Regions from separate parts of the Homo sapiens genome. Here all the other regions are linked to region 3. Evidence: fine-mapped expression QTL. A gene starts in region 3. Each other region holds a variant in brackets. All regions are shown on one strand. Distances are between the middles of the regions.

Region 1 (8,141 bases), 25 kb after region 3:
TCTACTAAAAATACAAAAATTAGCCAGGCATGGTGGTGCACACCGATAGTCCCAGCTACTTGGGAGGCTGAGGCAGGAGAATCGTTTGAACCCCAGAGGCAGAAGTTGCAATGAGCCGAGATTGCACCACTGCACTCCAGCCTAGGGGACAGAGCAAGACTCCTTCCCAAACAACAACAACAACAACAAAAAGATGTCACTAGGGCATAGGAATTTTTCAGCTCCATTATGATCATACAGGACCACCGTCATATGCGGTCATTGTGGGGTGCATGACTGTAGTTATGTAGAAGCGGCGCTATGCCCAGGACTTTCTGTTCCGCAGTCCTGGGCTCCTTCCACTATAGCAAGAGCCACCTCCATTTAGAGCACCACAACCCAGCTAGCAAACACGTGCTATGTGAGGACAGGGACCACTTAGCAATGCTGTCTGTTTCCCCTCTTTCCTGCGACAGGGCTGACTAACAGCAGGCCCTCCATACATTTACCTAACACATAGTTGCTTGCTTCCTCAAAGAGAAAACCCCTACAAGTGGATTTATGAGAGTGAGCAGCCACAGACAGCAGCAGCACGGCAAAGGTGGGAGATCTTGTTTCTTCCAGATGAAGAAACAACGTGATAAAACAACATGGCAACATTGCCTGATCTCTGGGCCTTGCAGTCAAAGAGATAATAGTCTAAGGCACTTCTCTCATCTTTGCTTGTACCTAACTGATGAATAGCTACATCCTTTGGTGGCAAAACGACATATGAAGTATAAAATAGGGGAGTAGTAAGTACATATGAGCATTTTAAATAATGTATATGAAGTATATACTAAAATGCCCCAAACTTGAATCATTCACCTCGGGGACAGGTGAGAGTTGAGAAAGGGCTTTGTTGCTAATTTCAGAGCTTTTAATATAGTCTCCTTGGTCGTAATGGAGTTATCAGATGCTTTAGAAAATTGAAATCTGTTCACTCTTTCACCTAGATTAAGTAAATCCTGGTTTTGTATCTATTTCATATTAACCAAGCATTCATTTAATATCTTCTTCTGTCATATTTAGGGACTTTCTTGGGCCCTCCTTTCCTTTGCCATCTTGCCTGTTGGTATGATGACCTAACCAGGATCAATGGATAGAACCAATTTCAATTTGTTCTGACTTTCTCATTTTTCATCTCCAGAGGAAACGGCCCCTGAGAACGCCATTGACCTTGGGGAAGAGAGCTTTGATATATTAACACATTTCCTAGAAAATGTCATTTTCCTTTTCTTTGCTCCTGACCGTTTGTCCCTTGTAATTTGCTTTTACTTACTGAAGATTATATTCCATTTGTCGGTTACGGTACCCTGTCAACCAGCAGACCAAGCCTACCCAAGATCTACTACAATTTTCTAGATTGTGGGTGGGCTTACAAAGACTCTGTCCAGGAATATGTGATTATTTTGTCTTCACACAAAAGATAGCTTCCTTAAGCAACAGTGAATGTTTCTCTCTTAGTTCCTGGTGCTGAATTCACCTCTTTGTGCTGACTGTGAAGTTTCTCCCAAAATCAACCTGGATTCCTCATTCCAAGGAACAGACGCTCAGGCTGCATTATGGCTTTTCATTTGCTATGTTTGCATACCACACATATTCAGTAAAACTGCCTCTTCTGGCCTGTTTCCATTTCTGAGTGCTACATTATTGCAGGATTTAGAAAAGTGTCTAAAAAATACACATCAGCTCTCAGTTATGTCTGTCAAACCTAACGGATGGTTTGGCTGTGTCCCCACCCAAATCTCATCTTGAATTATAGCTCCCATAATTCCCACATGTTGTGGGAGGGACCTGGTGGGAGATAATTGAATCATGGGGGTGGTTTCCCCCATACCATTCTCGTGGTAGTGAATAAGTCTCACGAGATCTGATGGGTTTATAAGAGGAAACCCCTTTCGCTTGGTTCTCATTCTCTCTTGTCTACTGCCATATAAGACGTGCCTTTCACCTTCCACTATGATTGTGAGGCCTCCCCAGCCACGTGGAACTGTGAGTGCATTAAACCTCTGTTTCTTTATAAATTACCCAGTCTTGGATACATCTTTATTAGCAGTGTGAGAACAGACTAATACACTAACCATTATAATGGGCAAAGTCATATAAGCCAAGAGGAATTGTATTAGTTTTCTTATTGTTGCTGGAACAAATTACCCCAAACTTAGTGTTTAAAACAATACAAATTTATTTTCTTATAGTTCAGGGGTCAGAAGTCCAAAATTAGCCTTACTGGGCTAAAGTCAAGGTATCAGCAGGACTAATTCCTTCTGATGGCTTTGAGGGGAAAATCCTTTTCCTTCTGTTCTCACATCTCTTACTGCCCACTCTGACCCCCTGCCTCCGTCTTCTAAGGCAATTATGTTAGCCCCATCCAGATAATCCAAGATAAACCTCCCCATCTCAAGACCCTTAGCTTAATCCCATCTGCAAAGTCTCTGTCATATAAGATAACAGTCACAGGTTCTGGGGATGAGGAAATTGACATCTTTGGGGATCATTGTTCAGCTGACCACAGGACCGAGACCTCCCTATTCAGTGACAGTTTTCTGTGGCCTTTCCTCTTGAGGTCAGGCTGCTTTGGTGGGGGAGGGATGTTTGTGGGTGGGCTTGCCCATGCCCTTCAGAGACCCCATGCCTGACTCCGTGCCTCCTGCACCTGCAGTAGCAGCCAGATTTCAGCTGCCTCCCCAGGGCAGTCAGAGGTGTCACAGTGGTGCCCAAGGGCCATGCCACTGTGCCCAAGATGTTTGCCAACTACCCTTCCTCAACTCTGTCTTCTTTCCTTTTTAGCATTGTGTTAGTGCCGGGAGGCCACTGTGTCAGCAAGCTGAGAGGGAAACTGAAGCAAGATGTCGGGCCGGAGTGGGAAGAAGAAAATGTCCAAGCTGTCCCGTTCAGCTAGGGCAGGTGTCATCTTTCCAGTGGGGAGGCTGATGCGTTATCTGAAGAAAGGGACGTTCAAGTACCGGATCAGCGTGGGCGCCCCTGTCTACATGGCGGCAGTCATTGAGTACCTGGCAGGTAATGAGGACACGCAAAGGAGGCTGCCTGCTCCCAGGTCCCCACCCTCCCCTGGGTCCCCCTCGCAGGCTGGGGAGGGATGCTCCAAATTGCCTTTTGGCTGGCTCAAGGCTACTGTGGGTGGTGACAGGGTTGCAACTGGCCTGCTTGGCTAAAATCAACTTCTGCAGACTTTAGGGGAGAGAAGAGGGTATAGGAAGGACAGGTGATCAGCATGGAAGGCGGAGAACCCACAATCAAGTAAGTGGCCCTCCTAGACCAGTCCTGCAAAAGATATGTCTTGCTTTAAGCGAATGCAATATATAAATATCTAAGCTCCTGAAGAAAATAAACTGCAGGGAGAATGGGGGATTTGATATTCATTTTGTAAAAGGGAGTCTTTTTACATCAAATTGCTCATTAAACATTAGTTTTCCTGGTATATTTAAACTGGGACTCAGGGTCCATAAATAACATTTATCGCATCATTAAAAGCATCTTTCAGGTGCTGGCATGAAGCCGATGTAATGTTCTAATTTTGCTCTCCTTCACTGAGGTGATTCTCGTCTAATAGGGGTGCACAGAAAATAGTTTCCCATATTTGTTGTTAAAGTTAATTTTTTTACTGAAAGATGAGATTTTGCTGTGTGTGTTCTTTATCTTAGTAACTTTCTCTTTAGCTTTTTTGTTGTTGTTCTCTTATGTCATAGTTAAATAGAAACCAAACTTTACAATATCAGGGGTGCTTTTCAGAAGTATTTACAAATAAAATATATAAATATATATGTACAATAAGTATGATTTAGTCCCTTGTTGGGTAATAGCCACGAGCAACAATGTCTCTGACTTTGCCCAAGGTTAACAAATTCCCTAGACACCAAGGTTAAGTTCCTTGGAAATTCTGCCAGGTTAAAAAGCAAACCTCCCCAGATGGTCTAACACTGGGGAGGCAAGCCTCACTGCATGAAATCCTCTGGGCTGTGGCAGGGCTGGTCCTCTCTTCTGTCCCCAGATTCCTCTTTTCTGCTGGTTTTTCCTCTTTAGATGCTCAGTCCTGCCCTGCCCTCTTAGTCCCCATCGCCCACCAACCAACATTTATTGGTGAAAGGTTTTCCTTGATCCACGGATCCAAGGAGGAAATGTCCTCCCCCGAGAGCTTCCACCAGGCAGACCTCTGCATCATGA[GCCTT/G]CCTTCCTCTTATGAAATGAAAGCCTTCCTCCTGAGCTAAAAGTCCTTCCCTCCTTTAGGAGGTTGGGGAGAGCTGGAGGGCTCTGAAAAGCAGTTCTTTTCCAAGTGGGGTCACGCAGGGATCTTGTTGACAAGGGCAGGGTGGCACCTGAGACTCCATTCCTCAAACTCCCAGGTGATAATGATGCTGCTGGTCCAGGGACCACATGTTGAATAGCAAGATTGTAGCCAGCCTTTTAACCTCAAGCCAAAAGATGTGGGGAATGCTTGTTTCAAATGCAAGTTCCCGCCAGGCACAGTGGCTCACACCTGTAATCCCAGCACTTTGGGAAGCTGAGGCGGGTGGATCACCTGAGGTCAGGAGTTCGAGACCAGCCTGGCCAATATGGTGACACCCCATCTCTACTAAAAATACAAAAATTAGCCAGGCGTGATGGCAGCTACTGGGATTACAGGCCGGTAATCCCAGCTACTTGGGAGGCTGAGGCAGGAGAATCACTTGAACCCAGGAGTTGGAGGTTGCAGTGAGCTGAGATCACACCACTGCACTCCAGCCTAGGTGACAGAGCGAGACTCCGTCTCAAAAAATAAAGGCCGGGCACAGTGGCTCACGCCTGTAATCCCAGCACTTGGGAGGCCGAGGCGGGCAGATCACGAGGTCAGGAGATCGAGACCATCCTAGCTAACACGGTGAAACCCCATCTCTACTAAAAAATAATAATAATACAAAAATAAAAATAAAAAATAAAATGCAAGTTCCTAGATATACTCTCAAAGGGTCTGATTCACTGGATCTGGAGTGAGGCCAAGGAATCTGATGGGAAAACCTCCCAGCTGAGACAGGGAGAGAACAGACTTTGAGAAGAGTTTATGAGGCTTTAAAACAACCTGTTAGGTGTGTGTCACCCACTGGGACTGGAAGACACTGAGTTAACTGCAAGATCCCACAGCTTCCAGATGGGGAACTAGGACTCCCTCACGCCCTCGACCTCAAGCCACGCAGTTTTGCTGCCCTACACTACCCCAATATTTGTGTGATGAAAATAACTAAGTACTTCCTGTGCCTCCGTTTGGCAAAAGTCTAATCCGTGCATATACAAAATTTGGCCTTTGGAATCCCCAGCATCTCTGTTAGTCTTTGGTTCAGATGTGTGAGATAAACGAAGCTTACCTCTTCCTGTTCGTTCATCCATTCAAAGAGCATTTGTTGAGCATCTCCACGTCAGCACACACAGTAAGTCCTTAGGCAGAGTTCCCGCAATAGAATTGGGCCATTTATACAGTGGGTTGAACATGGAGAGGATGAGCACCTGCAAGGGTGCCATTGCCAAAGTCCTCCTGCCCCCGGCCAGTCCCAGTGTCCAGACCATCCTGGGCCACGTGGAGGAGGAGAAGGTGACATTGGTCTCCTGAGGCCCAGGCCTGTCCTCTGTGTCCTTTCCCTCCCTTCTTTGTGCCCTTTCTCTCCCCCAAAGGCAGGCAGGCACTGAGTGCAGGCTCAGATGTCGGTTCCAATCGGGATGACTCATTGACCAGCTCTGTTACCTTAACCTCTCTGAGCTCCAGGTGTTTCCAGAACTAACTCTTTTAACCTCATTCAATGAGCTAATATGTGTAAAACACCTGGCGTATAGGATGCACTCAATAAATGCTAATTCTTCTCCTCCCCCCTCTATTAAGAGCTGACAAAATCATTCAGGACAAAGTATAAATGACTAATTCCATTAAGGTGTTGTATTTTCAGGCTGAATTTGCATTTTAATGAGACAAGGTGTTTTAATCCAAGGGAATGAATCATATTAGTGGAATTGCAAGCTACTGTTGAGTAAATGACATGGGGGATTTTAGTCTGTTTTTTGGTTTGTTTGTTTTTTAAAGAGGTATCCATTGATTCTGTTTAGGGAAGGGGGGTCAAAGTGTGGAAGCCTCCTGTCACCCTTGAAATGACTTCCACATTCATGAAACAAATCTAGACTGAGTGCCTCATTTGAATCAGGTCTTGAAGATACAGCAGAAAACCAGCTAACTTGGTCCTTCCCATTGCTGGACTTAGAGCCTAGTGAGGAGGACAAGAAGGAAACGCCTCACAATAAGATCAGGTGCTGTCGGGCAGGGAATGAGAGGAACTTCGGGAACTGCGGGTTGGGGGAAGGGCTGCCTAATCTAACAGAAGTGTTGTTAAGACCTAAACCAGGTTGTCAACCCTGCATTTTCTCGTATCGATTGATTTCAAATCCTGATGCCTGGGTCCCACCCCCGAGACTCTGGGGTATTTTCTGTGCATCAGGATTCTTAAAAGCTCCCCCAAATGATTCTGATGGGCAGCCAGGTGGGGAAGGGAGTCAGCCAGATTCAGACTGGGGGGGCGGGTGAACTAGGGGAAGATAGTAAGGGAGGTGGGGAGTAAGGGAGAAGACTCCAAGTTTAAAAGAGTGTGTGGCCCTTTCTAATGTGCCGAGAGCAGAGCTTGGAAATGGGAGGAGTGAGAGATGAAATGGGGGCAGGGCAGCAGGCGCTAGACTGTGACGGCCCTTGAAGGCCACGTTGAGGGTTCGCGCGCGCGCGCGCACACACACACACACACACACACACACACACACACACACACGGCAGAGGAGGCATCAAAGAGAGGTGGCAGCATCTGCAAGGCATCACTCTGGCTTTAGGTAGAGATCAGTTGTCAAGGAGCAAGATCAGATTCCAGGAGACCAGTGGAGTTGTTTTAGTGTCACTTTGTGAAGAACTGACAGTGGCCAGGACCAAGGGTGCACAGTGGGGATGGTGAGAAGAAATGGAAAATCTGGGAGCTTTCTGGAGGGCGGAGTCAGCTCCACTCCATAATGGATTGGATCCACAGGGAGGGGCATCAAGGATGATATGAATCTTGTAGGTATGGACTAGCTACTTTCTCTCAGGCCACACTGCCATGGGGTGAGAAGTAGATTGAGGTGTGGACTTGGAGACAAAAGGAGTAGGGAATGGGTAAAAGAAGTCTGACCAGCTGGACGTGGTGGCTCACGCCTGTAATCCCAACACTTTGGGATGCAGAAGCGGGCAGATCACCTGAGGTCAGGAGTTCGAGACCAGCCTGACCAACATGGAGAAACCCCATCTCTAATAAAAATACAAAATTAGCCGGACGTGATGGTGCATGCCTGTTATCCCAGCTACTCGTGAGGCTGAGGCAGGAGAATCACTTGAACCCAGGAGGCGGAGGTTGTGGTGAGCCGAGATCGCGTCATTGCACTCCAGCCTGGGCATCAAGAGCAAAACTCCATCTCAAAAAAAAAAAAAAGAGTCTTGCCGAGAGGAAGGAGAAGAGAGAGCAAAGCAGCTAGTGGATGGAGAATGGTGCCTGTACCTGAAGTAGGGAGCAATGGATGAGAACCAGGCTGCAGCAGGAGGGGCTCAGTTTGGGACCTGTTGAGCTTTGGTGTCTATAAGATGTCCAAGAGGGCTGGGCAGAGTGGCTCATGCCTGTAATCCGAACACTTTGGGAGGCCAAAGTAGGAGGACCACTTGAGTCCAGGAGTTCCAGACCAGCTTGGGCAAGATGGTGAGACCTCGTCTCTACAAGAAATTAAAAAATTAACCAGGTGTGTGCTGGGCACGGTGGCTCAAACCTGTAATTCCAGCACTTTGGGAGATCAAGGCGAGTGGATCACCTGAGGTCAGGAGTTCAAGACTAGCCTGACCAACATGATGAAACCCCATCTCTACTAAAAATACAAAAATAAGCCGGGCATGGTGGTGCATGCCTGTAATCATCCCAGCTACTTGGGAAGCTGAGGCAGAAGAATCACTTTAACCCGGGAGGTGGAGGTTGCAGTGAGCCAAGATCACACCATTGCACTCCAGCCTGGGGAACAACAGTGAAACTCCATCTCAAAAAAAAAAAAAAAAAAAAAAAAAAAACCTAACTGGGTGTGGT
Region 2 (8,141 bases), 51 kb after region 3:
TGTTGATTATATCCTCCTGGCATCATAAAACATGTTTCTTTGCTTTTTTATAACTTGGTGGTTGGATCTAGAGGTTTCATGAGGTGTAGGTTCGAAAACTTTGCCAAGACTCCTTGGTCAGTGGCGAGTGCTCGTGCCCGAGGAGGCGCGTCGTGCCTGGTTGTCTGTATTGGTGTGATGCTGGTGGCCATTGATGCCTCTTCTCTAGATTCCGCCATTCGTTAGGAGTTGCAAAGCTGTGGTATTCTCATTCTAGCATTGCTCCTTTCCTTCTTGGGAATGCTTCTGTAGAGAGAAACTACCTCTCTCCAGGATGCTTTTTTCTTAAAAGGCTTCAGTGAGGAGGGTGGATTCCCCTTGCCTTCTGCACATTCCCATTTGGCCCTTGACCTGAATGCAGAGGGCGCCAGTGTAGACCTAGTCCTCTGCTTCTCAACATGAACTGGCTACCAGCTTCAGTTACCCGGCCTTCTCCAGGCTTCTGGACCCAATAGATCAACAGTGTCCAGGAATCTGGGGGCCAGAAAGGAGTCTCAGGGGTACTGGGTATAATGCACAATCACCATTTCTCAGTTGCATCATGGAAACCCAAGAACATTAACAAAGAAAACCCCTCTGCACGCCCTCCCCCAGTGGACAGTGACCACTGGAATAGACACTTGTCCTAAACCAGCTGCACAGTGTACTGTGGCTGTCCACATATACTTGAGGCTCGAGTGTGGAGTGGGGAAGCATCAGCACCCAGGCCCTGGGAAAGACCATGAACTGAACCATAATAATAATGATGATTCATAAAGAGATTGCTGAGACTTGCTGCAGACATCCAGATCACCAAGTTCATTCGAAGATGAAAACATCTGAAAAATGCCTCCTCTGCTGCCCCAAAGCTGCCGTCATCCCAGTCTGGACAAAACACCCATGTCATCTCAGAGACATGAGAGCTGGATGCGCTGGTGCACACCGACAGGGTTCCTGTGGGGTCAGAGGTGGTGTCCTGTCATCTCCCAGGGGTTCCACTTGGCCTGTGTAGAAGTAAGAGCTGAGGTAGGAAAAAAAAGAAAGAGTGGGGCATTCCCCTAACATCAAAGGCTCAGGGCATCTCCCGGCAGGAAAGTCCTTAGAGATTAGCCTCTCTGCATTTCTCCATTGCAAACTGAGCACCGGGTTGGGGGAACAACATGCCAGGCTGCCCTGGGCCTCTGTCTGTCCTTTGACTCAAGCACGTACAGTACGTTGATGGCACTGTGATGGGACCAGGACTTCAGAGCTCTCCACATGAGTACTAAACCTGTGGGACACAACACTAGAATCACAGTTTTTTGTTGTTTTGTTTTTAAATCATCTACAAGACTCAAGCCATGAGACCGCTTTATGGCCAAATCACCCCTTAAAATATCCTTGGTAAAAGCTTGCCAATCTAAGTCTGCTAGACTGAGGCCCAGAGTCCCCTGCCTCCCCTGACCACTGGCAAACCAGGATAACAATTGGGAAGTTCAATTCCTAGTTTCTAACAGTGCTTTTGTTTTCTCCTGGCCTACTACAAATATGTCAAACAGTGTAATTAGATTGAAAGAACAACCACAGTGGCTTCCCATTGCTCTCCTTTGCAGGTAAAGCCTTGGAAAAGGCTGGGGGAAAAGAGTTCTTGGAAACGGTAAAGGAGCTTCGCAAATCCCAAGGCCCTTTGGAAGTCGCCGAAGGTAAGTGTGGAACTAGGCTCCTGTCACCAGCATGGCCTCACCCTCCTCTCTGGAGTCTCCAGCCTCACGTGCCTCATGCCTATTCAGCTTATGAGTCAAAGTATGCCATAACTAATCAGAAAGCTGTTTTAGCATCTCAGGTAATTTGGGCAGGCCCATAGAGATCCTTTCAGATGTCCTGGGGACTCCAATATGTTTGAATAATTCAAGTCAGTTTGCATCAGATCCCCCAAAATGGTCTAGAGCCATTGGGTGAACTTTGCATGTGTGTGATAAAATACACACACCATAGGACTTACCACTGGAACTATGTTTTGTTCTTTTTTTTTTTTTTTTTGAGAAAGAGTCTCACTCTGTCGCCCAGGCTGGAGTGTAGTGGCATGATCTCAGCTCACTGCAACCTCTGCCTCCCAAGTTCAAACGATTCTTGTGCCTTAGCCTCCCGAGTTGCTGGAATTACAGGCGCATGCCACCATGCCTGGCTAGTGTTTGTATTTTTAGTAGAGATGGGGTTTTGCCATGTTGGCCAGGCTGGTCTCAAAGTCCTAACCTCAAGTGATCCACCCGCCTTGGCCTCCCAAAGTGCTGGGATTACAGACATGAGCCACCACACCCGGCCACTGGAACTATTTTAAAGCGTATAATTCAGTGGCATTAAGTACTTTTACAGTGTCGTGCAGCCATCACCACCACCTAGTCCAGAGCTTTGATATCACCTCACACAGAAACCCTGTTGGGTTGATCGGACTCAACACCAGGTCATGGGGGTGACAAAGTCCAGCGGAGTCAAAGGAATGAGAAAAGATAGTTTGAGAGAGAAAGTGGGTCCAGGGGGCTGTCACTAATGTGTGGCGGTTGTGAAGGCCCCGAGCTCTGGAAGCCCAGGCTATTTATTGGTGATCAAACAAAGAAACAGGTGATGAGGATGTGGGGGTCGAAAGGGCAAGCGCATGATCTACAGCTGTGACAGTTTAGCATTTCCTTTGAAGCATTTGGAACATATTCTGCTACTTGAGATAATGGAGAGCAGGTTCTTTTAACTCAAGATACAATCGATCCTGGGAGAGCAAGGAGCAAGAAGCCAGCAAGTCTAGACACATTCAGAGCCACGAGCCCTGGATTCTATCCAAGCCACGAGGGGTTTTATGCCCTGGGCTTAGATTATGGTGTGTCAGGGTGGCCTTCCACCCTTTGGCACAGAGCTTGGTGTTCCAAAGGCCACAAGGCGTTTTCGAATCTGGACCCCGGACATGTTCCAAGACTCTTTTACATTACGTCAGACATGCAAGCCCTGCCTCAGCTTCTCTCAACACTTAGCTTTTCCCCCAACAAACCCCCTAACCATTAAGCAGTCATGCCCAGT[GC/G]CCCCCTCAGGCCCTGGCAAGCACTAATCTACTTTCTGTCTCTACGGATTTGCCTATTCTGGACATTTCATATAAATGGGATCATGCAATATATGACTTTTCTGTCTGGCTTCTCTCACTTAACATTTTTTTCAAAGTTCATCCATACTGTAGCATGGGTCAGTACTTATTCCTTTTCATGGCTGAATAATATTCCATTTTGTTTAACCGTTCATTTACTGATGGACATTTGGGCTGTTTCCGCCTTTGGTGATTGTGAATAGAGCTGCAGTGAACATCTGTGCACAAGTTTTTTTTAAACATCTCTTGTCCAGGATATTGGGCAACTTTTTGACAGGTGGATTCAACCTCAGATCCATGTTCCCACCCACATGACTCCCAATCAGTTCACTCCTTGTACCCTCAGTCAGTGCCAAGTGCCGCAGGGCTTCAGAGGAAAATAAAACCCACCGCTGCCCTCAGATGCATAATTGGGGCACAGAGCAGGAGCCACGACCTCAGCGTAGGGGAGCGTGGGAGGACTGCAGTGAGGCTGTGAGACCCCTTGGGGGTGGGACACAGAGGGCAATAGGAGCACTGCATGCAAGAAGACGCTTGTCTTGCATGAGCAGGGAGTCTTGGGTCAGCACGTGGGAGGAGAGAAACAGCAGCCAAGATGAGTCTGGGCCTGTGGGCTGTGCGAAGGGGTCTGGATCTGACCCTACATGGACATGAGGGCACTTGGAAGTTTAAGCAGGGGGCTGTCCAGATTAGACTTGATTGTTATAAAAGTAGGGCCCAGGTACTGTGGCTCATGCGTGTAATCCCAGCACTTTGGGAGGCTGAGGCAGGCGGATCACGAGGACAGGAGTTCAAGACCGGTTTGACCAACATGGTGAAACCCCGTCTCTACTAAAAATACAAAAATTAGCCAGGCATGGTGGCGCATGCCTGTAATCCCAAGCTACTCAGAGGCTGAAGCAGGAGAATCACTTGAACCTGGGAAGTGGAGGTTGCAGTGAGCCAAGATCGTGCCACTGCACTCCAGCCTGGGCAACAGAGAAAGATTCTGTCTCAAAAAAAAAAGAAAAAAGAAGAAAAGAAAAAAGTAATGGGGGCTTCTAGTCCAGAAAGAACAAGAGCCCACACTTTAAATCTCCACCCACTACTCCCCACAGGCAAAGCAGTAATAGATGCAGTGTCTCTTTAAAAACCCTAAGAGCCACACTCAAATATAAGATAAGCCTCCATGTAGACAGAGACAGGAGGGCTGCAGCAGCACCTGCAGGATGCTGCCGCCCCAGGCCTCGGCTCCAGGTCTATAAGATGCAGAGTCGCTTCACTTTGTATCAGAGTATAAAGAGGGCCAGAGCCAGACTCACTGCCCAAAGCAAGGGGCTGCATGAGACTCTCGCGGCCTTTACAAGAAGCCAAAGCTCTCGCCACCACCCAGGGCTACAACTTCTATAAAAATCTGTCTTTCTAGGGTAGCAGAAGGGAGAAGAGAGCCCCTCACCCAAGCCCAGGGCCACATTGCCCACCGACTCAATGTTTGGCTCTACCACATCCCCGATATAACCATGAGACCAAGCCCCAACTCAGTCATCTAAGACGGCATCAGGACTGGGGGCCTGGGTGTGGGGAAGGTTCCCCAGAAACTGCCTGATAGGGTGCAAAGGAGAGGAAAAATAGCTGCTCTGCACAGAATGAGAAGCTCCAACACACTTCTTTTTTAAATTATTTTTTAAATAGAGATGGGTTCTTGCTGTGTTGCCCAGGCTGATCTTGAACTGCTGGGCTTAAGTGATCCTCCTGCCTCAGCCTCCCAAAATGCTAGGATTACAGGTGGGAGCCACCGTGCCCAGCACCAACACACTTCTAAACAGAGTTCCAAAGGCAGAAATAGAAAGTAGAAAAGCATTATTTAAGGAGATCGTAGCTGAGAATTTTCTAGGATGAAGCATGAGCCCTTAAGCTGAAAATATCAAGCAAAATACATGAAAATAAATCCAAAACCTGGAGTGTTGTGGTAAAGCCTTAGAAATTGAAAAATCAAAAGAAACCTTCAAAGTAACCCGAGAGGAGAGGCAGATCATTTGTAAAGAAATGATGGCTCTTCTACTGACAGCAGACTTCTCATCAGCAAAAAAAAAGATGTGTGGAAACAGGAAAGAAATACCTTCAAAGCACTGAAGGGAAAAAAAAAACTGTCAACCAAGAATTCCACATTTTGCTACGTTGTCATTCAAGAATGAGGACAAAAGATGTACAATTTCAGACGTGCAGAAGTTGAGAGGCAGCAATCCAGACACTAGCTGGAAAGAATACAAAAGTCTGCACCAAGGAAATAGACATGAACCTGGAAGGAAGGAGAGGGCTACAGGACACAATTTTGAGCTAAGACATTGGTGCAAATATGTTAGGTGTAAGAAGCCATGGCCTGGGGCCAGTGAGTGTTAGCACCCTGGGAAAAATGGAGAAGGGGAGATGGTTCGCCACTGTCTAACACCACACTGCATTTCATTTAAAAACACCATCAGTTGTTAAGATATACTCTTATTGTATGTAACATTAAGAAAAAATAAATTTCCAAAATAAAGTGTCTAATAGGAGGCCCCACATAAAGCTGGGGCACATTAGTATAACAGCAAGCAAGACATGAACCCACCACGCAGAAAGGAGGAGCAAATATCTTGACCTTGGCATCCAGTGGACAGAGAGGAAAAAAAAAAAAAAAGCCTCACTAAAGAATTTGGCCAGGCATGGTGGCTCACGCCTGTAATCGAAGCACTTTGAGAGGCAGAGGCGGGTGGCTCACCTGAGGTCGGGAGTTTGAGACCAGCCTGACCAACATGGAGAAACCCTGTCTAGTAAAAATACAAAAATTAGCTGGGCGTGGTGGTGGGTGCCTGTAATCCCAGCTACTTGGGAGGCTGAGGCAGGAGAATCACTTGAACCCAGAAGGCAGAGGTTGCAGTGAGCCGAGATCACGCTATTGCACTCCAGCCTGGGTGGCAAGAGTGAAACTCTGTGTCTAAAAAACAGAAAAAGAATTTGAACCGCAAGCCAGTGCTCCTGAAGATTTGCAGCCAGATCCAGTGCAGCTCAAAACCTGAGGCAGAGAAGAGAGTGAGACATAGCCTTAGTTTGGTAGTGTCCCCAGGTGACATAGAAGGAAATGTAATTTCTTTCTGGAAGAACTCAGCTCCAGGCTGACAGCAGTTCTAAGATGCTTCCTGATTTCAACAATATTAAAATATTTAAACAAAAAAAAAGTGCATCTTAACATGGTTAAAACAGACCAACTGCAGTGCAGGCCCACCCTGTGGCAGGGGGTCGGGGAGGGTGGATCAAGAAAATATTTCAGGTGCAGAGTCAGTGAGAGGCAGCGATGCTGCATGTTCAGGGAGGCAGAAGCTGGAGCTAAGGTAAGTCCAGGGTTTCCAGGGCTGAGCAAACTGATGAAAAGTCAGGACTTTCATTCATTTGTTGAATATTGGAGCACCTGCCTGCCAGTGACTGTGGCAGGAGCCAGGCAGCAGCAAGGAATACAAAAGTGCTTCAGTGAAGATGTCAGCTGGGGCAGAACCAGTTCACGTTAAGCATCTACGGTGTGTGCTGTCGGGCGCAGGCATCAGGATGTGGATGTGATTGTAGGCCCTGAACACTCCTGAATTTTACAACCAGGCGGGGACCCCAGGGTAACACAGTACATCACTTAGCACAGCTGGCTGCTGAATTGCATGGCAGAGGCCCGGAGAGAATGGGCGAGGGAGTCAGGGACAAAGGAGGATAGCCAAGTGTGGAGACAGAGGTGCAGCCAGACCCATGTGTGCAGGGGACTGAGCCCACTGGCTGGAGGACGACTGGGCATCCAGAAAGAGCAAGAAATGGATAGACTCCAAGGGGAGAGGGGCCGACCATGAAGGGAGCCTGGGAGGACTGCAGTAAGGCCAGGGGGCAATCAGGAGCAGTTGCAGATTCTGAGTTTAAATGTGGAGTTTAAGGACCTTGGCTCCAGCAACCGTGTGGAGGATGGTTTGGCAGACAGAGGGCTGGGGCCCGAAGACCATCAAGAAAGCTGTATTGGATGAGGGTGGGGGTGGAGTGGGGGTGAAAATGAAGCACATGGGCCTGAAATGAGACAAGGCAGAGGAAACTGATGGTGTCTGCAGTGACAAAGAGGGAAAAAGGGGAATCGGGTTTCAGGAGTGAATGGCCATTTTACTGGGCACGTGTTAGCCCTGGGGCCCCAGAAAGGTCATGAGGTGCAGGTCCCTGTTGAAAGCTAAGGAGGAAAATGGCTTGCAGATGGCTGCTTAGGAGGTGGGGCTGCAGCAGAGAGAAGAGCACTGGGCCCAGACACGCAGGAAGAAGAGAGGCCATTGTGGGAAACTGAGGTGCTGTTAAAAGAAAACCCACAGTGTCACGGAAACCAGGCATCAGCAGTAGCAGCCTCTCAGCAGGACAAGGGGCCAACCTAGAGTCCCCTTTTGCTGTGGTGACTCCCAAGAACTGTGATGGCTCACCTGGGGGAAGGTTCTAGAAGCTCCCAGCAGCAGCACTGCCACCCTCAGAATGCAGGTCTTCACCAGGCAACATCACATTAGGTAAGAGAATGCCCCTAGTCATTATGTGGATAGGTGCTTATACCAAATACCAGGGTCACAGCCCTTGCAATAACTTGACCCTCATCCTTGACAACTCTGGAGAACATTACAAAGCATTATGGCTACAAGCTGTGTTATTCATTTCCAGTTGCCATGAACATACTTTGTTTTGGACTGAAATGTCATCGTGCACTACCCTGAAAGTCATTTTTTACTTGATTGGATGTTTGACATTGCCAATAGGAACATATTCCTTTTATTTAAAAATGACTTTTGGCTGGGTGCAGTATAATCCTAGCACTTTGGGAGGCCGAGGTGGGTGGATCACTTGAGGTCAGGAGTTCAAGACCAACCTGGCCAACATGGTGAAACCCCATCTCTACTAAAAATACAAAAAATTAGCCGGGCATGGTGGCGGGTGCCTGTAATCCCAGCCACTTGGGAAGCTGAGGCAGGAGAATCGAATCGCTTGAACCCGAGAGGCAGAG
Region 3 (8,141 bases):
ATTAATAGAAAGTTCTAATTTTTAATGAGGGCCATCCATGGTGCCTAGAGATAAAGTAGCCATGGTCATTCAAGAGTGATTCGTCCCCTTGTCCTCCAGAAAATAATCAAAGGCTTGAGATCAACCCCATGGGCCTATATCTACCCAATCAGAACAGTGAGTTATCACAGAGCCACAGCTCTATGAATGCTTTACTTGGATATTTTTTTCCAGAAGGAACATGTTTCTCACACAGCAATCTTAATAAATGCAAGTGGGCTCCATTTCTTGGCTTTGAGGTAATGAAAAATTAATTACCATACTTTACAAGTAATAGATTCCACTCACAGCACTCCTTTAGAAGTAAATATATCATAAATAGTTACTATTATACCAATGGTTGGTGGATTGGGCAGCCTGTCGTCCATAAATCTTTTTTCAACAGACATGTTATTTCTTCTGGGGGAACAAACAGATTTGTTTTAGATCAGAGAGTCAACTGACAGATGGCCTTTGTAAAAACACACCATTTGTATAAATAAATTATAGTTTCACTATGGTATTCTGCATTTGTGGATTTGGAAAATCAATGCCCCCATTCTCCAGACTGGGCCTAAACTGTAAAGAGCAATTTTGTTTAGGTGTGAGGTCACATTGCACAGATCTGCCAACACAGATGCTAAAGTCCAAACTCTCTGGATACTTGCTGCCACTTCTCATCACAATTGTCACAAAGAACTCTGCCTGGAGGTAACAGGATGATCTCCCAGAAAGCTCCGTAACCGATCAGAGCAAGTTACCAACTGGCACACTCCCCTTAGCTCTGGGCTCTGTTTCCATTAAACGTAATGATACCACGTGCCTTATTTTCCTAACCACAACTTTGCATAATTGGGACTGACAGTGTATTTGTCTTAAAAAGCTGAAACACTTCATTTTCTTTTACAATATAGTTCATCAGTTAAACGCTAAACATTCGGTAGATTTCTTTAAAATCCAAACCAGCCCTAACTCTGAGCACACTGGAATCTCAGTCATTACTCATCTTACAAGGTATACACATGTAACATATGCATCAAATATTTGATTCATATATAAATGTACATATCTAAATATGCATCTATACACACACATACCTACTCATGCAAATCCCCTTTCCCAGAACCAAAGGGTCAAGACTTAGTATCAAAAAAGACATAGTTTGTCACTGTTTTTAAGAACCAGGACTAGTAAAATGTTTCTTTTGCTAGGAGACCAAGACATTCATTTTAGCCAGAAATTATAAGCATAGTCTTTGTTGGCCTAATGATTGCCTGCGTGTCCTTTTTTTTTTAAGGATATTATTCCCCCTCCACACATGATTAAGATCCTAAAGTCATCAGTCGTGATCAAGGAAATAAAAGTTTAACACCAATCATGTTCACTATTCAAAATATAAAAACAGGAAAGACTTTGTAAGTTTCCAGCTTAAACAAAAATTTATGTGTCAAATTGTCCAGTATTTTCCTAGCTACAACGTACTTTTGGACGCTGTGTTTATTCTTTCACAGGGTGGGATACTGTTAGCCTGGTGCTTTGTCTGCATTCATAACCTCAAGCTCCCACATTGTTATTTAGAGTTATACCAGTTGGTGTCTTGATAAAATTAATACAGTGTCTAGAGTTCCTAACTTACATCCAAAGAAGTGCATAAACCAATGATTTCCATCTGTTTCTATGACACTCCCAGGGAATCTCAGGTTACTTCAAAGGAGATCAGAAATTCCCAAATAAAATTAATTTAGATCTACAAATCTTACGCATATACTTACATATGCCAGATATAAATATATACCTACATGCACATAGGTAAATTCTGGAAGATGCAAAGTCAGGAAATTACTAAGGTAATTGCATATTAAGATCCTAGGAGGGTAAAATGATCACAAATTATAATATGTATCGTAAACTGATTAGAACTAATCATGAAAAATAAAAGTCCACTCAGTTTACACAAAATCACAAATTTGGATCAAGAAAAAGGGTTTGGGGGGTAAATCAATGAAGCTATTTTTGAAGTAGATGATTTTGTGGATGAATTACTAGCAACCCAATAGGATACAAATCTGGTTGGATGACTGATTCATTTGATTCTTTTTTTTTTTTCATCTCTAAATTATGCTACATGCCTCTCTCTAAATGGAGAAGTGCTTCATCCTGCATCTCAATAAAATTATTAAAGACATGTTTGCTGTAATGGAGTCAACTCACAATCAATACCTGTATTCATAATATTATGCACACATACAGGTCAAGGGTTAAGAAAATGTTTTCAGTGCAACTGTAATCAACCAACCCTCCTGTAATTAGGCTGTTTGCTGACTCCTTAGGGACATTTATTGGGAGGGGCCCAAGGGCCCCTCTTAGACTCAGATCATGTGACTGAGTGCAAAATTCCTTTGCTTAAAACAAATGCACTTCTCCACCTTCAGATTAAGGCAGTGATTAAGAGCATGGATCTGCCACTTCCTAACTCTATAACTGTGGGAAAGTTTCTCATCCACTCCCTGCCTCAGTCTGTAAAAAGGAGAAAATAGTGCTTGCCCCATACAAGTGTTGAAAGGATTAAATAAGTTAGGATAAAGTGCTTAGTACAGTGCACATAGTAAACATTCAATAAGTGTAAGCTCTTATCATTCTTTATTATTCAACTTGTCAGAGGTTCCCCGAGCTAGAGACCACTGCGGAACTCTAGATTACTTATCAACTTATGATCATGTTGACTTTTTAAAATGTATTTTAATTTTATATAATATTATATGATACTATCTCAGTGTTAAATTTTTATGTGTTAAATGTTCGGTATTAAACACACATAATTCAACTAGATCTGCATATTAAGTGGCATATTTGTCCCCTATACATCCTGAAAAGTTTGGAATTGGCGGAAACTGCATTGACTGGGTATCTGGACATGCATTGGAGGATCTCCCACTAATGTCCTGCGAGGCCATGGCTGAGTCATTTCACCCTTCCAAATACCAGATTTCTTCCTATAGCAAAGGTTTCCACTAGGTGAACTCTAAGAACCCTTTTATCCTAAGAATCAGAGTATTTTGAAGCTGACCTCTTCCTTGATTTTCTGAGTTGTGACAGCATCATCTGTCTGAAGAAACCAACCAGTATGAAATGGGAGAATCCTAACCAGTAAATTTACTAGATCCAGCCTCTCTCAGGATAGCACATAACAAAATGCTAGAATGAACTGTTATATAAAATTCACATAAAAATGACCACATATGCCACTTTTATTGGGAAATTACAAGGAGAATGTGAATCTAATATCTACTGATGAATTATTCAACTATATTTCAGTCAGCCTGGCTGACTGGATGACAGAGTATGAGTATTTTTCAAGCACTCATAGAAAACTCCTGAACTCTCTTGAATGTTGGCTTGATGGTTATTTCTGGTGAAGAATGGACACCTGAAGGTATAAGAAGAGAGACCCTTTCTTTAGGAATGGGAAAGGACATCATTATGGGATGCCCCAGGGGATCATTTGAAACCCTTTAAATATACATCTTGGGGAAAGAAGACTTTATCCTGACTGGATATCTGACCTGGAAAATACCTTCCAAGACAAAGAACAGTGAGGTCATACACAGAGGGCGTGAAAGGCTTAGGAAAAGAGTAAAGGAAGCCCCAAGAAACAGAGACTGTTGAGTCCAGGGGAGTTTGAGAAGCCATAGGAGACTGAAATAGAGGCTTATGCATATGTTGATGATATATGCGTGATTTGGAGGAAGTCAGAGAGAAACATGGCTGATTTCTCAGCAAATACACTTTAAAATGCACATGTTCTAAACCTAACCCGCTATCTATAAACGCCAGCAATAGCCATGATTAACTAACTAGTAGAGACGCAGAGGGTGGTAGGCATGAGTTCTTCCCACTCAGGCACTGGGAGGCTTTCAGTCACTCCAAAGTCCCCACTGCCTAAATAGTTACAAGTTTGTAGTAGCAAATATACACAATATTACCAAATGTAACAGCTTTAAAAATCAGCCATTTGGCCAAGGCTGGAGAATTCTGTTTGCACCGGTTTCTCTTTTTGGAAGGGATCAAAATGTTGCCTCTCACAGTCCTTTGACTGTAGGAGAAATCAGAGGAAACCTGGATGGTCCACAGCAAGTTAGTATTTCCCACTGAAATAAACACATTCTTTTGACTCCCCTCCAGCCATGGAGCCCTGGCCAACAACTCACAATACAAAGCCGAGACTGGCTTCCACTAGGAACACAGCAACTGCTAATCCCCATTATCACACCCGACAGTGTCCACCACACCCCCATAAAGATGCATTTTCTAGTAACTAATAAAAACTGGTCCTGAAGACAATAGCCTCGCGCTCATCTAAATACCCGTTGGGATATTGCAAATTAACACCTTGTAAAGCAACCCAATTAAAAATTATGCCCATACACACAGTCTCACCCACCAAAACATACATCTGCCTCTCCAAATATTATGCAACGCTGGATTCTAAATCGGTCTTAATTTCTAAAAAGCCTACAGGCACGGATATAAATTCTCAGCTCTCGTGGCTGTGGCCGCCCTATGCACTCTTCCCAGTGGTGGACACAAACGTTAATGTACTTGTTATTATTTAAGGACACAAAAATATAGAAGGTGGCATTTTTCGCTTTCCCCTTCGAAGACTCTCCCCAGAGCTGCCAGATGAACGCCCACGCCACCTTCTCCCACCAAAGGTGGATCCAGCTAACAGGAGACTGGATCGCGACCATAGCGCGTTTGTGCCCAGTTCTGGGGAAAGCCTCATGTTAGCGAGTGGCCCTCGGCTCGTCTCGCAGATCGGCCAAGTACGCGGAGGCCGCGCGGTTTCACCATTAATACTCCTGAAGGACAATAGCTCATCAAGCCCCACCGAAAGCCCCGGACCCGTCGCGGAGCCTGGGCTGGCGGGGGATGAGGCTGAGCAACTCCTCCTAGAGGTGGTTATGTGGAGAAGGAGCAATCCCTTCTCCCTCCTCCTCCTCCCCCCGCTACTATCCGCGGCCCAGAGAACTGCCGCTTGCCGCCATTGACACGCACAGATAGAACCCAAAGAAAGGCAAAGAGTCCTGCCCGGCACCGGCGCCGCGTGGGCCAAACCTGCGCCCGTGGAGGGGCGCGCAGAGGGCACCGGGCGCCGGGAGCAGGCGGCGCAGCACCAGGTGAGCCCGCCATGGCGATGGCATTATTGTTTAGGGTGCTCCGGGGTCTGGAAACAAAACGCGCCGCCGGGGCAGTGCAGGGGCCGGAGAGAACCACCTCTGCCTCTCCCCCGAGCCCCTGCGGGCGCACCCTCGATAGCCGACCCACCCTCTGCAAAAACAAATTCTTAAATCCAGCTGCCCAACTTGCTTCCTTGGGCGATAAAGGGGGGGCTGCTAAAGAAGTGGTCAAATTCCTGCGGCCAGCGAGGGGCCGGGGGCGTCGAGGGTACTGAGAGGGGAAGGAGGAGGGATGCGAGGTTCAGCAGCGGGCCCCAGGCGAGGCTGGACCCGGAGGAAGCGGAGGTCTCCTGGGAATGCGGAGTTTCGGGCGCAGGAGCGGGAGGACGGAGGCGCCCGGCCGCCGATGGGCACGGGGCGATGGGTGGGGGGCTGCGCAGGGCCCGAGGGAGCCCGGGGAGGGCCGCTCGGGGGCCTCTGAAGGTGCCCGGGCAGGGCGCCGGCGGCTCCAGGCTGACAATGGAGGGGGCGCGGAGCAGCCGGGCGGAGGTTAGGGACCCGAGTCCGGGGGCGGGCCGCGCCGGGGAAGGTCAGGTCGGGGACGCCGGGTGGCGGGGCGAGGGCTGGGGGTTGCTGCGCGGACACCCGGGCGCCGCGGGCGGGCGTGCGCCCCGGGGCCGGCGCGGAAGAGGGCGCGAGGCCGGGCACTCCCCTTCGGTTCCCTTTCCGGGGCGCCCGGTGCCGACGCGCGCTGCGCTTTCACCGGGAAATGGCGGCCCGGCCGTGGCTCGCCTGGGCAGTCTGGCTCCCGCTTTGCGCGGGAAAAAATAATAATAATAAAAATATCGAAAAAGGGAATAAAAGTAAACTGGCTGCGGCGCAGGAAAGGGCTCTGCCGGGCGCCGGACGCCGTGCGTATCGCTCGCGGGGCGCGGCGGTTGGGGACCAGCCCTGCCTCCCCCGGCTCCCAGCCTCCAGCCCCGGCGCACCTCAGCCCCAGCCCGGCCAGCCCCCCGGATCGCCCGTGGGTGTCCTCCCCCGCCTTTCCTTGGGGGGGCGCCCTCAGTTCTTGCCCTCTTTGTTCCTTACAACAATGGCCAAAGGGGCATTGGTTCCCCAAGGGCCAAACGAGCTTCCTCCAGGAGTTTCCCGTCGCGTGCAGTGGACCACCGTGGGCCTGACTGAGGCCTGGTCCTTGCCAGGGTTTTTTGGCAACGGCCCTGGATGAGTGAAGGGATGAAAGGCGCGAGAAGAAATGGGCTGAGAAACCAAAGTGCGGGGCCCTGAGTGTTTGAGGGGACGCGATGGGAACCGTGGCTCCGCTGCCCTGATTTTAAGGGCAGTTACCCTGTCACAGCCACGCTGGAACTGAGGTGTCCTTCCAGCTTCTGTCCACCTCAGAGGAATTCAAAACAAGGGCCCAGTTCTAAGCCCCACAGACCCCAGGATCCCCTAGGGGCCATTAGTCCACCGCGGCAAATGGTTTCCTCACTTTGCTCATTTGTGTTTGTTTTGAAATCCAATTGTCACCTCACTGGGCTGCACAGTTGCTACTGAAACGGTTCAATAGGTGAGAGAAAAAGAAAACATTATTAAGAGCGAGAACGTGTCTTCGTGTGTGTTGTTTTGAACCACAAACTAAGCTACACATAATTCTCAATCCGTTTTAACACACTTTTTATTTTCAAACTAAATGTTAAGAGCTCCAAGATTTGGAAACATACTGGTGATTTTTAGAATTGTTTTAGCCTAAAATTACATATAAATAAATAGAGGCACTGCCCGGCGGAAAAGTTTATCTTGAGTCGCATAATTCACATCTTCATAACCCCTCTTTCCTGTAGCCAAATTTCCTTTTAAAACATGCCCAGTTCTCCTCTTCTCTGGTTTTTCCTATCCTACCACAGTTACACCTCACCTGGATCCATTAATTGTCAGACTTTACACATTATTAGTGGTTTCCTCTATATCAAAACTGCGTAAAAGAATTTACCTCCTTGAATCCGGAGTGTCCCTGTGATTCTGACCCTACTCCCTCACCATTCCATCTTCTGTCTGGTTCCCAGGATTTTTAAAGCGCCTCTGGTCTGCCATTTCCCAGTGGGTGGGACACCCTGCTAGCTATTGTCTGAGACAACCACATCTGTTTTCACTGCCTCCTGCCAGCAGAACAGGAGGTGAGTCCTGTCTTAGGCAACTTTAAATGAAAGGTATCTGTAACTTGTTACCGGGGAGGGATGTGCAAAAATTCAGCCAACTTTCTTAAGAATGTTTTTCAACCTTAAGAAATAACCTCCAAGTTAGATGCAGTCTTGGTAAATGGAAAGTATATTGCACAGAGATTAACAAAGAACTTGTGGTTAGAGATCATTCAACAAACACTTATTGAGCACCAAGTCTTTTGTTGTTTGTTTTGTTGTTGTTTTGAGATGGGGGTCTCGCTATATTGCTCAGACTGGTCTCGAAATCCTGGGTTCAAGGGGTCCTCCCATCTCAGCCTCCTGAGTATACACCAATTCTTAAACACCTCTAGATAGGGAAAGAAATGAAATATAAGGAAGTCATTGGGCCCTTCTCTCATAAAGCTTACAACCCCAAGCCTAGGAGATAAAATATACATGCAGGTAAAACAAGGTAAAAAGTGATTTTGGCAAGCTAGTGGGAAAACAGGTACTTTCATATACTGCTGACTGGTGTGTAAATTGATATAACCAATTGGAAGAGCAGTTTGGCACTATAAAATTAATAATGCACACATTCTGTGACTCACCATTCCATTTCTCAGTATGTCACCCAAAGAAGCAGGCATCCGTGAGCTCAGCATGTATAAGGATGTTCATTGCAATTTTGGTCATTCTGAAGTAGAAAACAGCCTAACAGCCATCAACAGGGAATGGCTAAATAAACTCTGGTGCATCTGTCTTCTGGAATATTAGGCAGCAGTTC
Region 4 (8,000 bases), 37 kb after region 3:
GATTTGGGGACTGATTTTGCTTTACCTGTGAAGCCCCCAGGTGAGGCTATCTGGGTGATATCATGGGAGGGCTGGAGGTGCAGATTCAGTAGTACAGACGGGTGGGTAGAAGCTGGAGCCATGAGTCCAGTGGGGTTTTACCCAGAAGATTGCATGGCCCTAGCAGAGCAGAAGGCACAGACAGAACCCCAGGGACACTGCCAAGCAGTGGGCAAGTGGACAAGGAAGAAAGGGCCTGGCAAGGAGACAGAGTCTTGCTCACTCCACCTCACCTGTCCCAACCCTATAATTAATGTGCTATTTCCCATCTTCTGTGGGCTGGAATATCCACTGTTGGTTTAAATTGTATACAAAATGAAGGGACATAGACTCTTCCAAAATAATGTGTATGAGCTTTACAGCATCCCTTTTGGCTAAAGAAATTCTTTTTACTGCTAGATACTCAGCTGTATTCCAGATGGTTACTATTGCTAGAAGTGTGACTTGTGAGAAGTGAGGGATTTGCCATAGAAGTCCCCACCACTTAACAGAATTATGATCTTCCCACAACATTTGCAGTAGAGTAAATTTAGTGCTGTATAAATCCAGTTTTCCTATTGATTGCCAATATAAGGATTTGGCAGGATTAATAAAATCCCCAAGATCAATAAAGTCACTCAAGAATGTAACAAACTTTTATAGTTCATGGGACTATATTTGCCATAATAACATTTGAAACTATTAATGATGATTAATGTTTTTCTTGTTTCATTTGCTTTGAATTTTTTTTTTTTTAGAGGCAGGGTCTCCTCTGTCACCCAGGCTGGAGTGCAGTGGCACTATCACAGCTCACTGCAGCCTTGGAACTCCTGAGCTCAAATGATCCTCCCACCCCAGCCTCCCAAAGTGCTGGGGTTATAGGCATGAGCCCTGTGCCTGGCTAATGATTAATGTTATTACAAATATTTAAATGGTGAAGTCCATGTCTCAAGGATGTCCAGACTAAACATCCAAAAGAGATAAGAACTATTTGATGTAGATTTTCTGTGATGTATTATCTTTTTCTCTCTAAGGAAAAAAAAAAAAAAAAGTCCCACCACTGCTTTTGCACTAGAACACATAATCAAGATTTTCTTTCTTATAGATTGTTTCAAAAGAGTTTTTTAAGAGCCCAGTTGCATGATCCCCAAGCATCATCTGCATTCCCTGAATTGTGCTGCATGCTGAGTCTCTGCCTTCAGTCTCGTCCTATGCTACGTTTGATTCCGGCAGATTATTTTGTCTGTGAATGTCTGTGCATCTGTCTGTCAAGCTGAAAATAACCTGACCTTCATGGGCTTCCTGAAGACTCCAAATATGTAGTGCTTCCCATGGCCCTGCCTCTTATTGCTGACAGTTAATTTGATGAACTTGGGGAGGGCGCTTAATTTCTCCCTCTAAATGCAGGTAACAGGAGAGAGGAAAGTAATGATCCAGGATGCTAAATTCAATTCAGTTGCTCAGAAGCTTAAAATTGGGAGGCTCATTAACCCCCAGACCCATCTAGAAAAAGGGATGAGTGGAGTGCTTCTTCCTCCCATGTGTACCCCAGAAATGAGAGTCCCTTGAGATGAGCAGGGGCAGCACACTTCCCTTCACTGTGCACAATGGAGAGCTGCACATTTTAACCCAGAGCCATAAAGCAAGCCTGCCGGGAACAGCGGCTCACGCCTGGAAATCCCAACACTTTGGGAAGCTGAGGTAGGAGGACCACTTAAGCCCAGGAGTTTGAGACCAGCCTGGACAACAAAGTAAAACCCTGTCTCTACAAAAAAATTAAAAATTAGCCTGGCATGGTGGCACAAGCCTGTGGTCCCAGCTACTGAGGCGGCTGATGGGGGAGGATCACTTGAGTCCAGGAGGTTAAGGCTGCAGTGAGCCATCACTGCACTCCAGCCTGGGTGACAGAGGTGAGATCCTGTCTCCAAAAATAAAGTCTATTTGAAAGCCTTATAATTCCATTTTCTTTTCTTTCTTCTTTTTTTTTTTTTTTTAAACAGAATCTCACTATGTCACCCAGGCTGGAGTGCGGTGGCCCAGTCTCGGCTCACTGCAGCCTCCACTCCCAGGTTCAAGTGATTCTCCTGCCTCAGCCTCCCAAGTAGCTGGGATTATAGGCGCACGCCACCAAGCCTGGCTAATTTTTGTATTTTTAGTAGAGACGGGGTTTCACCATGTTGGCCAGTCTGGTCTCGAACTCCTGACCTCAAGGGATCCACCCATCTCTGCCTCCCAAATTGCAGGGATTACAGGCATCAGCCACCATGCCTGGCCACTCCATTTCCTTTTAATGGGCATCCTTTTGAAGAGAAAGCAAGGATTGGGCAACAGCCTGAAAGCACAAGCCTGCTTATCTAATACAGCATTAATTTCATTTTTCCAGTATAATCCATGGGTTCACAGACAGCATTAATTTCAAATACCCTATCCCACTGTCCCGACACGCATGCTCACACTCCTCAAATTTTAGTGCCCCAATCTTTGATTCAGAAAACACGGTCACTGCATAAATGAATTGTTGGCAAACACAATATTCATTGCTTAATAATCTGGAAAAGATGTGAGAATGAATTTGCGGTGATTCAGCACTTTTCTTTATGGAAATGCCTATGAATATTTAACTGTAATGTTTATTTTATTCTAATTTTTTGTTAATCACATGTGCTTAGTTAATACAGCATACTTATGTCAAGTTTTTGTGATTGCCGTAGATTTTATGAATGATGGCAATTTCATGTGCTCTTTTATTTGAAATTAGATTGATTGCAAAGACTCATACAAAGTCATCTGTTAATTTTAGGGCTTAGTATTTGTGCCATTGTATCAGCATATCCTCCCAGCACATACCCACATGCACACGCACACATATGCCCGCCTGCACACTCACACACACACAGTACATTCACGCACACACACGCACACATATGCCCGCCTGCACACTCACACACACACAGTACATTCACGCACACACACACGCACATATGCCCGCCTGCACACTCACACACACACAGTACATTCACGCACACGCACACATGCACACTTTCCCCCCTCATTATCAGTGAGACAACAACACATTGGCACATTCCTTCTAGCTTTCTAAGGGAAGGAATTTTTCTTTAAAGGCTCATTCATACTTTGGAAGGCAAATTTGATTTAGCAGAACATCCTTCTAAAATTGAGGAAGAAAGAAAAATAACGAAATAAAACAGAAGAGGAAGGGGGAAAGCATATAGATAGTAGAAACCAATTCTACAGATTTCTTTTTTTACCCCAAGGTTTTAATAGCATGGGAAATAGCTTTAGGAAAATTTCTTCTTATCAATGTTTTCACATTGGCCAAGTGGCGTGTTTGTTAAAGTCAGCCATGCTAAAGTTTTGGGAAGTATGTGGAAGACCCCCAGGCTCTATGTGCTTTCCTACGCAGGTCTCCTGGCATTCCCTTTAGGAATTCACTTTTCGGGTTAACCATTTCCTCATCCCAGAGTGTAAGTCAGTCCTTCCATCCACTTTTCTTTTAGGACAGGGAGGACCTAGGGCATTGAGCAAAGAGGAAAAGGAGAGTCAACCAGGCGCAGTGGCTCAGGCCTGTAATCCCAGCACTTTGGGAGGCCCAGGCGGGTGGATCACCTGAGGTCAGGAGTTCGAGTCCAGCCTGGCCAACATGGTGAAACCTCATCTCTACTAAAAATACAAAAATTAGCCAGGTGTGGTGGTGTGCGCCTGTAATCCCAGCTACTCAGGAGGCTGAGGCAGGAGAATTGCTTGAACCCAGGAGGCGGAGGTTGCAGTGAGCCAAGATCATGCCACTGCACTCCAGCCTGGGCAACAGAACGAGCAAGACTCCGTCTCAACAAAAAAGAAAAAGACAGTCTAAGAGAAGTCCAAGTGGGCACCCAGAACAGACTTTACCTACATCACTATTCTCTTCAGAGATGGCCCTGTGCCCCACAGACTGAGAGGAATTTAGGTTCTATAGCAGGATTCTGTATTGGTCAGGATTCACTTCTATAGACAGTGGCTTCAACAAGAGAGTTTATTTCACTCTCATACAAAAGAAGTCTAGAAAAGACAGTCTAGATTGGTAGAGACTCAGTTTCCTTCTGTGCTCTTGCTCTAGCATGCACAACTTCTTCTTCTTGGTCAAAGATGGCTGCCCAAATTCCAGCCATCGTGTCCTCAGCCCACCATTAGAAAGGAAAGAAGGGCACAGCCCCTTCATTGATGGACACTTCCCAGAAGGACCAGAAAACACAATGGCTTGCCTTCTTTGGCCAAATATTGGTCACAGAACCACACTTATCAAGGGAAATATAGTTTTCCTGCAGTTATGGGCTTGGCAAAAAAAATCAGAAGTCCTGTACCAAGGAAGAAGAGGAAGAGGGAGAACTGATGCTGAGGGACAACCAGGAGGCTTTGCCACAGGATCGGATAACATCTTGCTAAAATAGCTTACTTCTCTGTGACCTGACTTATTTTTTCTTTTTTTAAATTTTTTAATTTTTTTAAATTTTTTTTTTAGAGACAGGGTCTCACTCTGTTGCCCAGGCTGGGGTGCAGTGGCACAATCATAGCTCACTGCAGCCTTGAACTCCTGGCTGGGCTCAAGCGATCCTCCTGCCTCGGCCTCCTGAGTAGCTGGGACTAACTTGAGTTCTCTTACGCTTCCTGGATTTCTTTCCAGGCCGAGACATAGAAATCACAAATGAATGAATGTGATCAAACTTGAAGGCCATTTCTAAAGAAAAGCTTTAGCTCAGACCCCATTCTGTGATTGCCTGTTAATGCCTCCTTGTGATTTCAGCGGAAATTCTAGAATTGGCCGGCAATGCCGCGAGGGACAACAAGAAGGCCCGGATAGCCCCGAGACACATCTTGCTGGCAGTTGCCAATGACGAGGAGCTCAACCAGGTATGTCTGAAGC[C/A]TTGAGGGAAGCCGTAGAATGGGTTTGCCAAACATGCTAATGTGTGGGCCTGGCTGGCCATGAGTCACTCCTGCTACAGTTCCCAATTACATTTATACAAAAAAAACTCAGGCCATATAAAAGAACAAATTCTGCTAGCTCTTATCATTCAGATTCAAAATAAAATTGCCTCTGGCATAGATCTCATTATATATTCTAGGTCTTATCAGACCTTTCTTTTCTCTTTGAAGACAAGTTCTGTGTGTTGCTGAGGAAGGTGTGGCACAAATGTTATTCTCTTCACTTTCTTCACCCAAACTTAGTTGACAGTTTTTTCTGATGAAGGCAGAAGACTCTTTATATTTTAGAACTGACTGTTTATATTCTGAAACTGACTCCAAAGTCAAGCGAATACCCCCTTTTCACCTACAGTATATGTAAGGTGGTAGGTAAATAGTATAAGAATTTTTATTTCTGTTTCTTTTCATTTATCTTTATTTTCTAATCTCACTCTTCTCAAACTGTAGTGAAGAAGCCATTTTTATGGCCAATCCATCATGGACTGATAATTTCCAGAAATGTAATAAAAATCACTAGAAAAATTAAAAAGCAAACTACAAGCCATAATTTTTTGTTATCAGATTCAACAGATATACAATAACTGTCAGTTTGCTGTGAAAGTTTCTAGATGCTTGCTATACTTCTGTTGTCACTGACGGGTAACTACCAGTTCATGGGTGAGCCATGGTCGCAGACCATGCTTGGGGTAGTGTTGGTTTCGAATCTGCAGAATATATTAGTGGAGTAGTACGTGTCTGTTCTTTGCAGATAAATTAACTTATATTGATTGGGAGGAGCATGGCCAGACATACTTTACTGATGGAATGTATGTGCAAGCTTGTGGAGACCACTGGTTCATCATTAACTGGGTCTAGTCTTTGCAATGACCTTTGAACATCATTTTCTCAAGCTGCGCTCCCCACATGGGAAGCTTTTTATCCTGTGTTGTGTCTGGAATTCCAGAGCCCTGGGCAACATCCCTGGTTTCAACTTCTGTGTCCCTTCTATTTTGCTTTACTTCGTTTTGCTTTCTGTACAACATCACAGGATGCCTTGTTAACCTACGGAGAAATGCTCTACAACTGAAAGTGGGAAAAGCCAATTAAATGGTGTATTACGCAGTTTCTTTAGGAAAGCGGAGGCCACATTTAACAGTTAGAACCGTATTAAGTCCAGGCCAGGCACAGTGGCCCACGCCTGTAATCCCAGCACTTTGGGAGGCCAAGGCAGGTGGATCACCTGAGGTCAGCCGTTCGAGACCAGCCTGGCCAACGTGGTGAAACCCTGTCTCTACTAAAAATACAAAAATTAGCCGGGGTGGTGGCAGGTGCCTGTAATCCCAGCTGCTCAGGAGGCTGAGGTAAGAGAATTGCTTGAACCTGGAGGCGGAGGCTGCAGTGAGCCAAGATCGCGCCACTGCACTCCAGCCTGGGTGACAGAGTAAGATTCTGTATCAAAAAAAAAAAAAAAAAAGAACTGTATGAAATTGGGAACTAGCAGGCTGTTTGCTACATGAGCGCATGCATTTCTCTCTTCAGCTGCTAAAAGGAGTGACCATCGCCAGTGGAGGCGTCCTGCCCAGAATTCACCCCGAACTGCTGGCCAAAAAGCGAGGGACCAAAGGCAAGTCGGAAACGATCCTCTCCCCACCCCCAGAGAAAAGAGGCAGGAAGGCCACGTCAGGCAAGAAGGGGGGGAAGAAATCCAAGGCTGCCAAACCACGGACGTCCAAAAAGGTAGGCCGAGGCTGCGTGTCCTGGGCCAGGCACTCCCACTGCAATGGTCTGAATGTCTGTGTTCCCCCACAATTCATATGTTGAAACCTAACCCCAGAGGCATAGGATTACAAGGTGTGGGCTTTGAGAGATAACTAGATCATGAGGGCGAGTCCTCACGAATGGGAACAGTCCCCTTATAAAAGAGGCCTGAGGGAGGCAGAGGGACCCTTCTGCCATGTGAGGACACAGCTAGAAAGCGTCATCTACCAGGAAGTGAGCCCTTGCCAGACACAGAACCTGCCTGCGCCAAGGACTTCCTGCCTCCGGAACTATGAGAAACAAGTTTCTGGGCCAGGCACAGTGGCTCATGCCTGTAATCCCAACACTTTGGGAGGCCGAGGCAGGAGGATGGCTTGAGCCTAGGAGTTAGAGGCTGCAGTGAGCCATGATGGCACCACTGCACTCGAGCCTCGGTGACAGCGCAAGACCCTGTCTCTTAAACAAACAAAAAAAAAAGAAAGTGGTTTCTGTTGTTTGTGAGCCAGCCAGTCTATAGCATTTTGTTAGAGCAGCCCAGGCAGACACTAAGACGCTCACAGAACAGGAGGGAAGTTTAAAGATGAGACAATGACTTCGTAGCAGACACCTCTGAAGGACCGAGGACTCTTGCAGCTTGGTGCCGGAAGAAAATGACAAGAATGTACAGGTAAAAGAATAAAGGGCCTTTGAGGTTAGAGCTGAAATGGGTCTTCTCTAGGTTTCCAAACCCTAAGCAGGGATGGTTTTCAGATCCCTTTTACTACCCCCAGCAAAATCTGAAGTGAGCGATGATAGCCAGGAACCTGCATTTTATTTCTCTGCAGAGCTCTGTGTTGCCTTCCAAACAGCCTCTAGTCTCCTGCAGGCATTCCCTGAGTTCCGCCAGTGGAATTTCAGGTGTTTGGCATATACTTGATATACTAGGTGTTTGGGTTAGCTTGATATACTAGGTAGCTTAGCTCAGAGATGCCACTGATAGAATAATGTTTTCCTATGTTGCCCAGTACAGTAACCACTGGTCACATGTGGCTTTTTTTTTTTAAGAGACAGGGGTCTCACTCTGTCACCCAGGCTGGAGTACAGTAATGCAGTGGCGAGATCATAGCTCACTGTAGCCTCAAACTCCTGGGCTCAAGCGACCCTCCTGCCTCAGCCTCCCAAAGCATTGGAATTATAAGTGTGAGCTAAGGCACACAAGCCAAGGCTATTTGGATTTGAATTAAAACTAAATCAAATTTAAAATTCAGCTCCTTGATTGTACCAGC

Alleles and levels. Positions count from the first base shown, and alleles are read on the strand shown. Sizes are in standard deviations (SD) of each study's normalised expression. Not every link is listed here.
For the expression in tibial nerve of the gene that starts at base 5,041 in region 3, allele GC in region 2 goes with a lower level than allele G (small effect, 0.19 SD a copy in GTEx).

Evidence for each region. PIP is the estimated chance that this variant, and not a neighbour inherited with it, causes the effect. A credible set is the group of variants that fine-mapping cannot tell apart.
Region 1: its variant is the best candidate, but not a certain one, in a credible set for the expression of MACROH2A2 in whole blood (INTERVAL, PIP 0.56).
Region 2: its variant is the best candidate, but not a certain one, in a credible set for the expression of MACROH2A2 in tibial nerve (GTEx, PIP 0.50).
Region 4: its variant is the best candidate, but not a certain one, in a credible set for the expression of MACROH2A2 in unexposed skin (GTEx, PIP 0.72).

The regions. Positions count from the first base shown.
Region 1 is chr10:70,072,789-70,080,929 of GRCh38, forward strand. It overlaps MACROH2A2 (macroH2A.2 histone), which reads left to right. Exons shown (of 9, transcript NM_018649.3): 2 at 2,812-3,042. The coding sequence starts at 2,871. Among named protein-coding and RNA genes, the nearest start is that of MACROH2A2, 24 kb to the left of the region's middle. The variant GCCTT/G (reference allele first, on the strand shown) is at 4,207.
Region 2 is chr10:70,098,598-70,106,738 of GRCh38, forward strand. MACROH2A2 (macroH2A.2 histone) reads left to right here. Exons shown (of 9, transcript NM_018649.3): 7 at 1,611-1,700. Among named protein-coding and RNA genes, the nearest start is that of AIFM2, 30 kb to the right of the region's middle. The variant GC/G (reference allele first, on the strand shown) is at 3,064.
Region 3 is chr10:70,047,806-70,055,946 of GRCh38, forward strand. MACROH2A2 (macroH2A.2 histone) reads left to right here and starts at 5,041. Exons shown (of 9, transcript NM_018649.3): 1 at 5,041-5,195.
Region 4 is chr10:70,085,241-70,093,240 of GRCh38, forward strand. It overlaps MACROH2A2 (macroH2A.2 histone), which reads left to right. Exons shown (of 9, transcript NM_018649.3): 3 at 4,820-4,926; 4 at 6,517-6,714. Among named protein-coding and RNA genes, the nearest start is that of MACROH2A2, 36 kb to the left of the region's middle. RefSeq lists an enhancer at 5,798-5,942 and a cis regulatory region at 5,863-5,876. The variant C/A (reference allele first, on the strand shown) is at 4,940.